2 separate regions of the Homo sapiens genome follow, and region 2 is linked to region 1. The links come from fine-mapping of genetic effects on gene expression. A gene starts in region 1. The other region holds a variant in brackets. All regions are shown on one strand. Distances are from middle to middle.

The links. PIP is the estimated chance that this variant, and not a neighbour inherited with it, causes the effect.
Region 2: its variant is the best candidate, but not a certain one, in a credible set for the expression of KIZ-AS1 in subcutaneous fat (GTEx, PIP 0.78).

What each region holds. Positions count from the first base shown.
Region 1 is chr20:21,215,807-21,221,188 of GRCh38, forward strand. KIZ-AS1 (KIZ antisense RNA 1) reads right to left here and starts at 2,483. Exons shown (of 8, transcript NR_109956.1): 1 at 2,341-2,483. The region is part of intron 9 of KIZ (kizuna centrosomal protein); the gene reads left to right.
Region 2 is chr20:21,239,599-21,244,980 of GRCh38, forward strand. It overlaps KIZ (kizuna centrosomal protein), which reads left to right. Exons shown (of 13, transcript NM_018474.6): 12 at 4,647-4,690. Among named protein-coding and RNA genes, the nearest start is that of KIZ-AS1, 24 kb to the left of the region's middle. The variant G/A (reference allele first, on the strand shown) is at 2,755.

The DNA of each region.
Region 1 (5,382 bases):
ACTTATGTTAACATAAACTAAGGTGGAAAATCACCGTGTCTATTGAATTCTTCATCACCATGTTATATATTTACACCTGTAACATCCTCCATCATGTGCCCTTTCAGCACCTGCGTCTCTGTAAAAAGGTCCATCTCCCTGGGGAACACCCGGTCATTACACAGCAAACTATAGATGTTTCTGATTTTACTGTTTTCTTTCCTGTAGTAATTGCATATGTATATTAAAATAAGCAGATAATAAAAAAATGTCAGATAGGAAGCTTGCGTTTGCCTCAGTTACAAAGCCTGTCTGATAATTTAAAAATTGTACCAATCGGGCTTCATCAAGACCTATTAAGATTTCTGCACATGTATTAGGCTTGTTTAGGTGGAATCTGAACGATATCATTATTTTTTTCTTTTTAGAATAAGAACAGCAGCAATTAGTATTCTGTACAGAGTTCTACTTGTCATACATCTGAATTTACTAGTACCTTATTTTGTGAAGTGGTGTACTACTTCATTATAAATTCAAAGGTCTGACTTTAAATATTTACACAAGTAAATACACCATTGCACCAAGGTACTGAGGCATGCATCTGCATATGTGGTAGTTTTGTTGTTTATAAGCAGAAAAGAATGGCTTGCTTTTATGGCAGTGCAGTTCCTGGCATGATTAATTTTTTAAACTCATGTTTCTGTGATGAACTCTGGTTTTGAAAAAGCAGTTTATGGTAGAGCAGTTATTGTATATATTATGCATTCAGATAATATTTCACTCTAAAATGCAGAGTTTTTTTATTTTAAACATTTTCACCAATGATATGTTTATTGTGTTTTTAGTCTGCATTTTCTGCAAACTCTGGTATGGCTCCCTGCTATTTTTATTAATAGAAATGTAGATGATCCCAAACTACAGATAACCATGAAGTCATTTGGATACTTTTCTCTTGCATTTACTTTTGGATGCAGAAGTATCTAATGGCCTCTGAATTTATTTCAATTAAAATTACAAAGGATTATTGAGGAGAAACCAGGAAATGACCTTGTTCATTCATTCTTCTCTTTTCAGTATTCTTTACAATCATCCCTTGCTGGGAGTAGTTGACTCTCCCCAAAGTTAATGCAAATGTATTTTCTCATATACTTTCTTTATAAGAAAACGGATAATTAAGTACCAGGGTTTCAAATCCCTTCTCATGCAGAAGTGCAATATGGCTAGAAGCAACTTGGGCTGTTTGCCATTAAGATTTTAAAAGAAATTGTAATTCCAGCAACCTGCCATTGATCCATCAATAGTTGGCAGTTAAAAAAAATGCCTTGTGCCAGAATATTAGACATTAAAAAAAGTACTTTGGAAATTTTTTAAAAACTTAGCAAAGCCATACACATTGTTAAGGTGTTACTGTTCTGTCCTTGCCAGTGTACTATCCCCACCCAGGGACCTCCCATGAAATTCATGTTTGAGAGCTTCACGCACCTTGGCACTACTAATACTGTTGCTTTGTCCATCATTGCAGCTACTTTGATCTCTAAGTTCTTGACCATCATCCCTTTATTAAATGTTTGTGACTTTGGCATAACTATTTGGAGATTTCACTTTTGGTAGAGTAAAGCAAGTATGTAGTTTAATTTAAGACAGAGTCTGTCTGCCTCTTTATAATAGTTCTGTTGGGGTGTCCTGTTTGTGTGGGTGCATGCTGGTTGTGTTTGTGTGGGCTGCATTCCTTCTAGAATATTCCAAAGAAAATATTCCAGAGGCTGTCCCCTGAAGGTTGAGGAAATGTAGCAGTTGGGCTGGGGCTTTGCAACCAGCCATCAGTGTCAGCTCTTTTACTCCTTGCTCTGTTTCTCTACCCTCTCTGAGCCTCTGTATTGGGAAAGCAGACATACTGCCCAATAGGATTGTCTTAAAGTTTAAATGAAATCATTTGTGAAAGTGCCAAGCAGATACTAGACACTCAATTTTATCTGTGAAGTATAATAATATTCATGTGAACATTATTAGTGTTCCTGGTCTTCTGTGTGGGCCCCCACAGTCCCCAGCATTTCCAAACCAGCTATGAGGAGCCTCACAAAGCAAACTCAAAGAAGAACATAAGTAGAGAGAATGAGGATGCAGCATCACAGAAAGTGCCATTGTGAGACGAGCCCCTGGAAGAGTGGACACTTTCAGTCTGTTCTGGTGGACCTGCATACCTTCCTTGAGTTGTGGTGGCCACTTGGGACCAAGACCCACACAAGCACAGTACTGCTGCAATACCTGCAAGACAGTGCTTCCCAATAGTACTGCTATGTTAGTTTCTGCAAGAAATTGCCACTTGAGAACACAATTGAGATTCAAATCCAGGATAGTTACCTTATCAAAAAGGAATCTCAAGAAGAGTTTGATGATACTTTTCCAATTTCCACTTAGTCCCATGAGGACATCCACAGAGAAAAATCCGAAACAGCTGCTGAAGTACTCCTGAAGATCTCATTGGTCAAGGCCCAGACATCTCTGTCTCGGGGTGCCTATGTGCCCTTAGTAACCCTATGTGCTCACAATGGATGATGTTGCAGGGTACCTGATTACCAGGCAGCAGACCTCCCCTGATGTGTGTGCTGCCCCACAAGTATTGATGAGCTAATGCAGCATTTTCCAAAATGTGTTATTTGCAATGCTCCACCCAGAAAATACATCAATTAATACATATTTTGTTGCCCAGCCCTGTGTGATCCTTCTCTCTCTCTGCAGTATGCATAATGCATAGAAGCATAGTGAAGACTTGGAAAAGACTTTCAGCAAAGGAATTGTTTAAAAATGTGAGCCTAGAGTTTCAGATAACTTATCATTTATTTGAAAATGGAATTCTTTCTGTTAATAGCCAACAGAATTAATGTTCTGTGGAACATACTTTGTGAAACATACACACATGTATGTGGAACACTTTTAAAGCAGTGAGTCCAATGTGGGCACCAGTTTCCTCAATATGCTAAAATTATCTTCAGCATTTTTCTGTGATTTCATTTTGTGGGGAGCTCCCTTGTGCGTGAGATTGCTTTATAATGAGATTTTGGGCTACCTTAGTGTAACTACACCCAGATGTTATGACTGACAGCTGCTTGTTACAGCTGTTCCTTGAATTGACAGTAAGGTTACAATAGTAATTTTAGGCGCCCAGAAGTGCTATTCTTCAGTGTGGGATCCTTCTGTGCGTCTTTATTTGCTTTTCAGCCATTTCAGAAGAAGTATAAGAGAAGACGTGGCTGAGGTGAAATCTGGGAAGTCACAAGAGGTTGGGGGTGGGAAGCTGTGAAGTCATACCTTTATCAGAATGAGGGGGTCCTGGGGATGTTTAACCTGAGAAGGGCACAGTAGCTCTTTAAATATTTGAGGAGCTGCCATATACCAGGTAGAATATTTATCGAGCTTAATTATAGAGCGTAGCTCAGTAACAAAACAACTTTCTAGCTCTTCATTTCAGCAAAACCAAGTTCAGTATCTTCCAGGGGTGAGTGCTTGAACCATGGCAGGAACCATGACTTTTTTTTTTTCTTTTGAAACAGGGTCAGGGTCTTGCTCTGTCACCCAGGCTGGAGTGCATTGTTGTGATCACAGCTTTTTGCAGCCTCTATCTCCTGGGCTCAAGTGATCTTCCTTCCTCAGCCTCCCAAGTAGCTGGGACTACAGGCATGCACCACCATGCCTGGCTAATTTTTGTATTTGTTATAGAGATGGGGTTTCACCATGTTGCCCAGGCTGGTCTCCAACTCCCGACCTCAAGCAGTCTGCCCACTTTGGCCTCCCAGAGTTCTGGGATTATAGGCATGAGCCACCTTGCCTGGCCCTGTGGCTCTTTAAAAGAGCATTGTGGAAGGAATTATTGCTTCTGTGACCCCTGACATTCCTTCTAATGCCAAGGGACTGTGCTTCTTCCTCTATGCTAATGGAATCCAGTGTGCCAGCATTCTCATCTCTTCATTTCCCTTTCTCATTTGCTTATCACCACAAAACGGAGGTCTTCTTGGCTGGGGCTCCTCCTTAAAGAGTCTGCTATCACTTTGAAGGCATCTGCTTTGCTAATCGTTATTATGGAGCATGCGAGTTTTCTGTGTTTAGATTTACATAGAAACCCTCCTGGGCACACACTGATGCCCCACCCACAAACACAGAGTCAGTATTCCATAGCCTGTATGATCTGTTGTTGTGAATATAATCTACCCCTTTTATTAGTCTAGTTGTTGTTCACTAAAGAATCCAGGTGGAAATCAAAGATGAATTTTTATATCTATAAATGTATGGTTTTCTGTATATAATAAGTAGTATATAATTAGATGTATTGATACAATATATATTAGTTATATATTATATATCATATATCATTATAGATGATTATATATAAAATCCTTAATTATATTAGTTAATAAAATTAATATTTTTACGTGGGCTGAATCCTGGGATACCAGAAACCACAAAAGATGGTATCCCTGCCCTCACTAAGCCTCCCTCATCTCTAACCTTTACAACAGTCCTATAGGGTAAACATTAGTACTCACCCTACAAGTGGTCAGACAGAAACTTAGAAAGGTATCCTGCTCAAGGCCATGTAGCTGGTGTGTTTGATCTTGAATTGAACTCAGACTTTAGGATTTGGGCTCTTGAACTCCTTCCATTTCACTGCCCTGCCTCTTTTATTTATTTTGTTTTTTTATTATTTATTTATTTATTTTTGAGACAGAGTCTCACTCCATCACCCAGGCTGGAGTGCGGTGGCACGATCTTGGCTCAGTGCAACCTCTGCCTCCCGGGTTCAAGCGATTCTCGTGCCACAGCCTCCTGAGTAGCTGGGATTACAGGCATGTTCCACCAAGCCTGGCTAATTTTGTATTCTTAATAGAGACGGTTTTGCCCCGTTTGCCAGGCTGTACTCGCATCCTGGCCTAAAGATACCCACCCACCTTGGCCTCCCAAAGTGCTGGGATTACAGGCGTGAGCCGCCACGCCCGGCCTACCCTGCCTTTTTTATTTTACCAAAAAGACAACTGCATCAGGATGTCCGGATCAATTAAACATCAGTGTACATCATAACAGAAGATGGGCTTTGCAAGGCTGCTTCTGAGAGCAATGATAAACAAAGCTTGCCTTTCCTTTCTCTTGGGTTAGGCCTGGAGAGGTGGGCAGCATGCAAGGATTTTCAAATGCAGCTCATCCCGAGAGGCAGGCCTTTTATAAAGTGGGGCAAACCTGAGCCCAGCTGGGCTGCTGGGAGGTCGGTTTCCCTGAAACACTTCCTGACCTACTATGTAGGTCAGTTTGCCTGAAACACTCAGGCCATGAGGAAAGTGATGCTTATCTAGATTGGGAGAGAAAGTCTGCCTTTTGAACTACTTACATCCGCAAAGTGAAAATTTCCCACAT
Region 2 (5,382 bases), 24 kb after region 1:
AACCTATTGTCAGTAATTCTTACTAACTTTATATTGATGTTGACTGTGTAGACCAATTCTAGCTACGTTAGCCTTTTGTTCATATAAAATGAACAACTGACACGTAATTGTTACTGTTTTCCATAGTGCACTGTGTCATCCTGACTCCACGTATAGAGTGTTCACTGTGTGCCAGGGCTGCTCTCGGATAAAACCTATTCTGTTGAAGTCCTGGCTGGCCCTAACTTTTTAAGTTTAACAAGGTTGAGAACACAAGTGACTTTGATTAGCATTGTCCTAATCTGGTTTATCAGTAGCAGGGGAATTTATAAGCAGTTACCAAAATGCATCCAAAATAAGATGGCTTAATGGCTAGGCAGAGGGGAGAGATGTGATGAAGTCAGTACAGCAGAATGGTAACAAGTGAGCATCTCCCTAATGGGAATGGGACATTCCTGGTAGAGCTGGGAGAAAAAATGACCAAAGCTACTGGGAAATTCTGCAGAGATAATTGTCCCATTACTTTTTAATTAATTAAAACTAATTAATTAACTATTTTTTTTTTGAGACGGTGTCTCGCTCTGTCACCCAGGCTGGAGTGCAGTGGTGCAATGTCAGCTCACTGTAACCTCTGCCTCCAAGGTTCAAGCGATTCTTCTGCCTCAGCCTCCCAAGTAGCTGGGATTACAGGCACATAGCACCATGCCTGGCTAATTTTTGTATTATTAGTAGAGACAGGGTTTCACCATGTTGGCCAGGCTGATCTCGAACTCCTGACCTCAGGTGATCACCCGCCTCAGCCTCCCAAAGTGCTGGGCTTATGCCACCACACCCAGCCGATTGTCCCATTCAAATGAGACCGGCGGAACATGGTTATATTTTAATTTACTCAGTTAATCATCTGCAGTGTCTTGCCTGAAAATGGCTTATTTTGAAGTAGGACCTCCAGTCCAGTTGTAAACTTCTAGGGAAAAAATACCAAGTCTGCCCTCTGGGGTTCCAAGAGTCGCTCCTGAGCCATGGTGCGGGGGAAAGGCAGGCTCTCTGGCTTGCAGCATGGGCCTCATGTGAGGCAGTTCTTTACAACAATGGTGGCCCTTGGGCCGTGCCCAGGCCACTGCCTCAGTCCATACGGCCCGCAAGCTAAGAGTGGTTTTCACATTTTTAAATGGTTGGAAGAAAATTCAAAGAATAATGTTTCGTGACACCTGAAAGGTATATGAAATTCAAATTTCCGTGTCTATACGTGAAGTTTAATTGGAATACAGCCACATCTTTTAGTTTACAAATTGTCCATGGCTGTTTTTGTGCTACAAACACAGTTGAGTAGTTGCGGCAGACCATATGGCCCACAAAGCCTGAACTATTTACTCCCTGGTTCTTTACAGAAAACCTTTGCCAACGTCTGCCTTACAAGATGGAAACATTACTTCTACACTCTCAGCAAACATTACACAGTTAGATTCTGAGCACATAAGACCACATGGTGACCATATCTCATGGCCTACAACCTTAACTCTTTGATTTCTTTTACTTTCTGAAATGCAGTTTTGTTTTTCTTTCATCTACTCTAGTAGCCAAAGTAGTTGGCTCTATCCAGCACACAATAGAAAGTTCTCAGGCTTCTCCATCAGCCTTGCCTTAGCTTTACATATTAGGTATGACCTAGAGAAAAAAATGTTGGCCCCAAGAATTCTGTATAATAAAAAATCAACTATGAATTGCAGGGTCACATTTACTTTCAGAGATTTTCCCAAAAGGAAAAATAATTGCTCCTTAGATACGAGAGTGGAGAACAAAACACTGGAAAGTACGCTCTGCCCTTCTCCGTGGGTAGGCCACGCACCACGCACATTTAGCTCTGAAACATGTTTCCTGTGAGAAAACCAATCACACAGACAATTAAGAACGATTACACAATTAATTCACATTTCACTAGGATGTTTACTGGCTCCCTGCATTACACAATTAATTCACATTTCACTGGGATGTTTACTGGCTCCCTGTGGCTTAAATGTTCTCAAAGCTACACTGTGTAACCACAGGACAAACAGAAAAAGCAAGTTCAAGTGGCCTCATAGAGACATGGCTTCAGGAAATCATTTTTTCCTAGAGTGCCACATGCGGAAGTGAGGTCCCTGAAATGCTCAGTGGGTCACCTCCGTGGTGGGACTCAGCATTGCTGGCTGATTGCTTTTGATGAGTTAAGTGACGACTAACACACACTCGCATAGATGTTCTCATGTGTCTGTGTTTACAGCCTTGTGCATGACTTTTTCCTTTTTTTTTCTGCTTCAGCTTTTCTGGGTTTTTATTTTTTTTTCTTTGCCAGCAGGGAAGCCAAAGAAACTTGATTCTGAAGTGCAATATTGAATAGAAATATGTAAATCAAGTATTATATAATTGAATATTGATCAAATGCCTTTAAGCAGGGCCCTATGCTTAGTGAAGTTCGCTTGTTCATTCCAAGTGAACATACTCATTAAGCACCTGTTAAGTGCTGTGCACCGCCTTACCCAGGTGAGCTGAAACAGGTGTGGTCACTACCCGCATGGATCTTGCAGTTCAGAGGGGGAGGACTGGCACGTCAGTTGGCTGCACAAGTGGATGTGAAACAGCAACTTGACGAGGACTCAGTGGTAAAGATAGGGAGTCAGAAGTGGGAAGGCTCCAGCAGGACAGCACGACACTCCTGGGGGATCCACCTTGGAGGCACTGCTTGGGATTTAGGTCTTTGTGCAGAAATCAATGGAAAGGCATTGAAGAATTTTAAGC[G/A]AGGAAGTGGAGCGACCAGATTTGCATTTCAGAAAGCTCACTCTCATTGCCTAGTGGAAAATGGATAGTAGGGGACAAGATGAGTGTGTGTCACCAGTTAGGAGGTTGTTGCAGAGAGAGAAGCAAGAGCTGATAGTTTTGTTGACCAGTGTACTGGCAGTGCCCAGGGAACTGGTGAGGACTGCAGGAAGTATTGCAGGGGGGTCGAGAGGGGTGGGGGTGGAATTGGCAGGACCGAGGGCCAGACTGGATGTGAAGGAAAGAGGAGTGGAGACTGGAGAGGGGCTTGGGGAGACTAGTGGGTCAGGGGTGCCATTTGCTGAGACGGGAGGAGCTGAGCTCACCTGCCACTGTGTCCTTTCTCCTGTGTCAGGGGCTCCCTGCTGCCCCACCCCGCCACACCTTGTTCCCCAGTCCTGTCCTGTGAAGGCCTCTGCCTTTGGAGGTGCCGGGCTTCCTCTGTGGTCCTGCAGCTCCCCCAATCACCTGCCACAGTGCTCTCCATCCACCCAGCTGGCAGAGATCTCTCCTGCTCCCCCTGTGGCTCTTCTTGTATGGACCGCGGCTGGCAAATTAGCCTCTTTCCACCCCTCCTAGCATTTTTATAATCCACCCTCCCCTGCAGCACCTAGCCCAGTGTCCTCAGGTAGGGGGAGGTGGGGAAATAATAGACATCCCTGCAGTTGCATTTAGTGTGTGTGTGATGTGTGTGTCACTTTCTGTAAAATGGGTTCTTGCAGGCTCACCTCACTGACAGGTCCCCACAATCCTGGCAGCTCCAGGACTGTCAGTCAGCTGCTGGCCTTTCCAGATGCTCGTAGGGGTCTTCCATGCTTCATGGAGAAATGGCTGTGAGCACTACTCAGTCATGGCAATTAAAGAAACAGGCACTAAATTTAAAGGGAACACTGAAAGGTAGCCTAGAAAATGATACCTTAGTGGAGCATGTTTTTCTGAAAAAAAAAAGTAAATTATAGCAAAACGTAGATTTTTAAGCCAAAAGTCAACCACACTTGGCCCAAAGGGAAGGAAAAGATATATTTGCAGGGTTTCCTGTGTCCAGAAGAACAAGGCCCTGGCTGTGAGAAGGGCGGTGGTGGTGCGTGGGGTAGGGCAAAGTGTCGAGCCATGCACCAAGAATGGTTTCTCTCCCAACATCTCCTGTGACCATTCAGGCAATTCTGAAAGAATCTCAGCATCATAAAACATTCGAGTGACACTCCCTGAGGAGACTTTTAAATTCATTAAAATTGCAAAAGCTCCTGAAAAGGCACACAGAGAAATCATATCCCGTGGAGCCAGTTTTCTTGTCATATTGGCCTCAGTCGAGACGGTCCTGGACGCCACGAACACTAGCATTTATGTGACACTTGCAGGGCCCTCTACCAGGTGTTTGTTTTGAACTCCTTTCTTAACTGTTAGTATTGCTGCCACTGGTTTGACTAAGTATTTTAACTTCCTTACCAACATCTTGAATTCCCTACTGCAAGTGTTTCATTTTTAGCTTGCCTGAAAGCACTGAAGTTTGATGCATCACTGTCTTCCAGAAGACTGTTGAGGGAAACCGGTCCCCTGCCTCAGGGGAACATGCGATCATCCTCCCCCAAGAACACGTGGCCCCACACAGGCACAGCTCAGCAGGGCGGGGTGGGCCATGCAGACCTGCCGAGGGGACACACGCAGGACGGGAGCAATGCTGTTGAGTAGCGACCCTCCCGACAAGGCCACGCTGCATCCCGATATTTTCCCTTTACTTTTAAACTCTGGGAAGTAAGTGTAAAGTTCTGGCCTCCAGTGAATCAAAGTGCTTCTTCTCTAATGCGTTCATTATGAAAATATTAGTCTCATTGTCTTTTCTTTTTCAGAACTTAGACTGTTTCTTTATTTTGCAGGCATGAAAACAAAAAGAAACCCGTGATCAATTTAAAATCTAATGGTGAGAGAGATAATCGGACACTAGATTTTCTTTTTCTGTTTTAACCAAAAAACTCTGTGACATGCATTTGTTGTTTGCACCCTCATGTGAGTCCTGAAGCGGGCATGCTCACAGGGACTGCCATTGCAGCTGTCCCTGGGGTGGAACCTGAGGGCTTCTGGAGGCTCAGTTCTTCACAGACAGGACCACACGGGTGCCATGGACCACAGGGGCAGAGCATTGTAATTTGCAAGTATGAATTTGCAGGGGATCCTGGCCTCCATGTCTAATTAATTATCAGCACCCTGTATTTTACCAATGAAATGTTTCTTGCCTCTCTCCTCATCCTCAGAAGCACCCATTGCTCATGACCGGACAGGCTCTTGGAGTAACTCTAACTGGTTTCCTCATACCCAGTTCCTCCCAGCTCCTGGGAACTCCCAGCTCCTCCACCTGGCCACCAGCCTCCAAACCCTGGCTTCCCCCGACCTTCCTGTGTAAGGACGGCCAATGCCTCCCCGTACCTTCAGGGTAGAGTCTGAGCTTTCTCCATTCCTGGGAGGCCCCAGCCCTGCTCTCCAGCTTATTCCTCCCAAGGTCGCCTCTTTGGGTCAAGCCACAGTCAGCTTTTTTCAGCTGTAGCACACCTATGCCTCTGTACCTTTGCCCATGTTGTTCCTTCTGTAGGGAGTTCCTTTTCCTTTTCCTCAGCC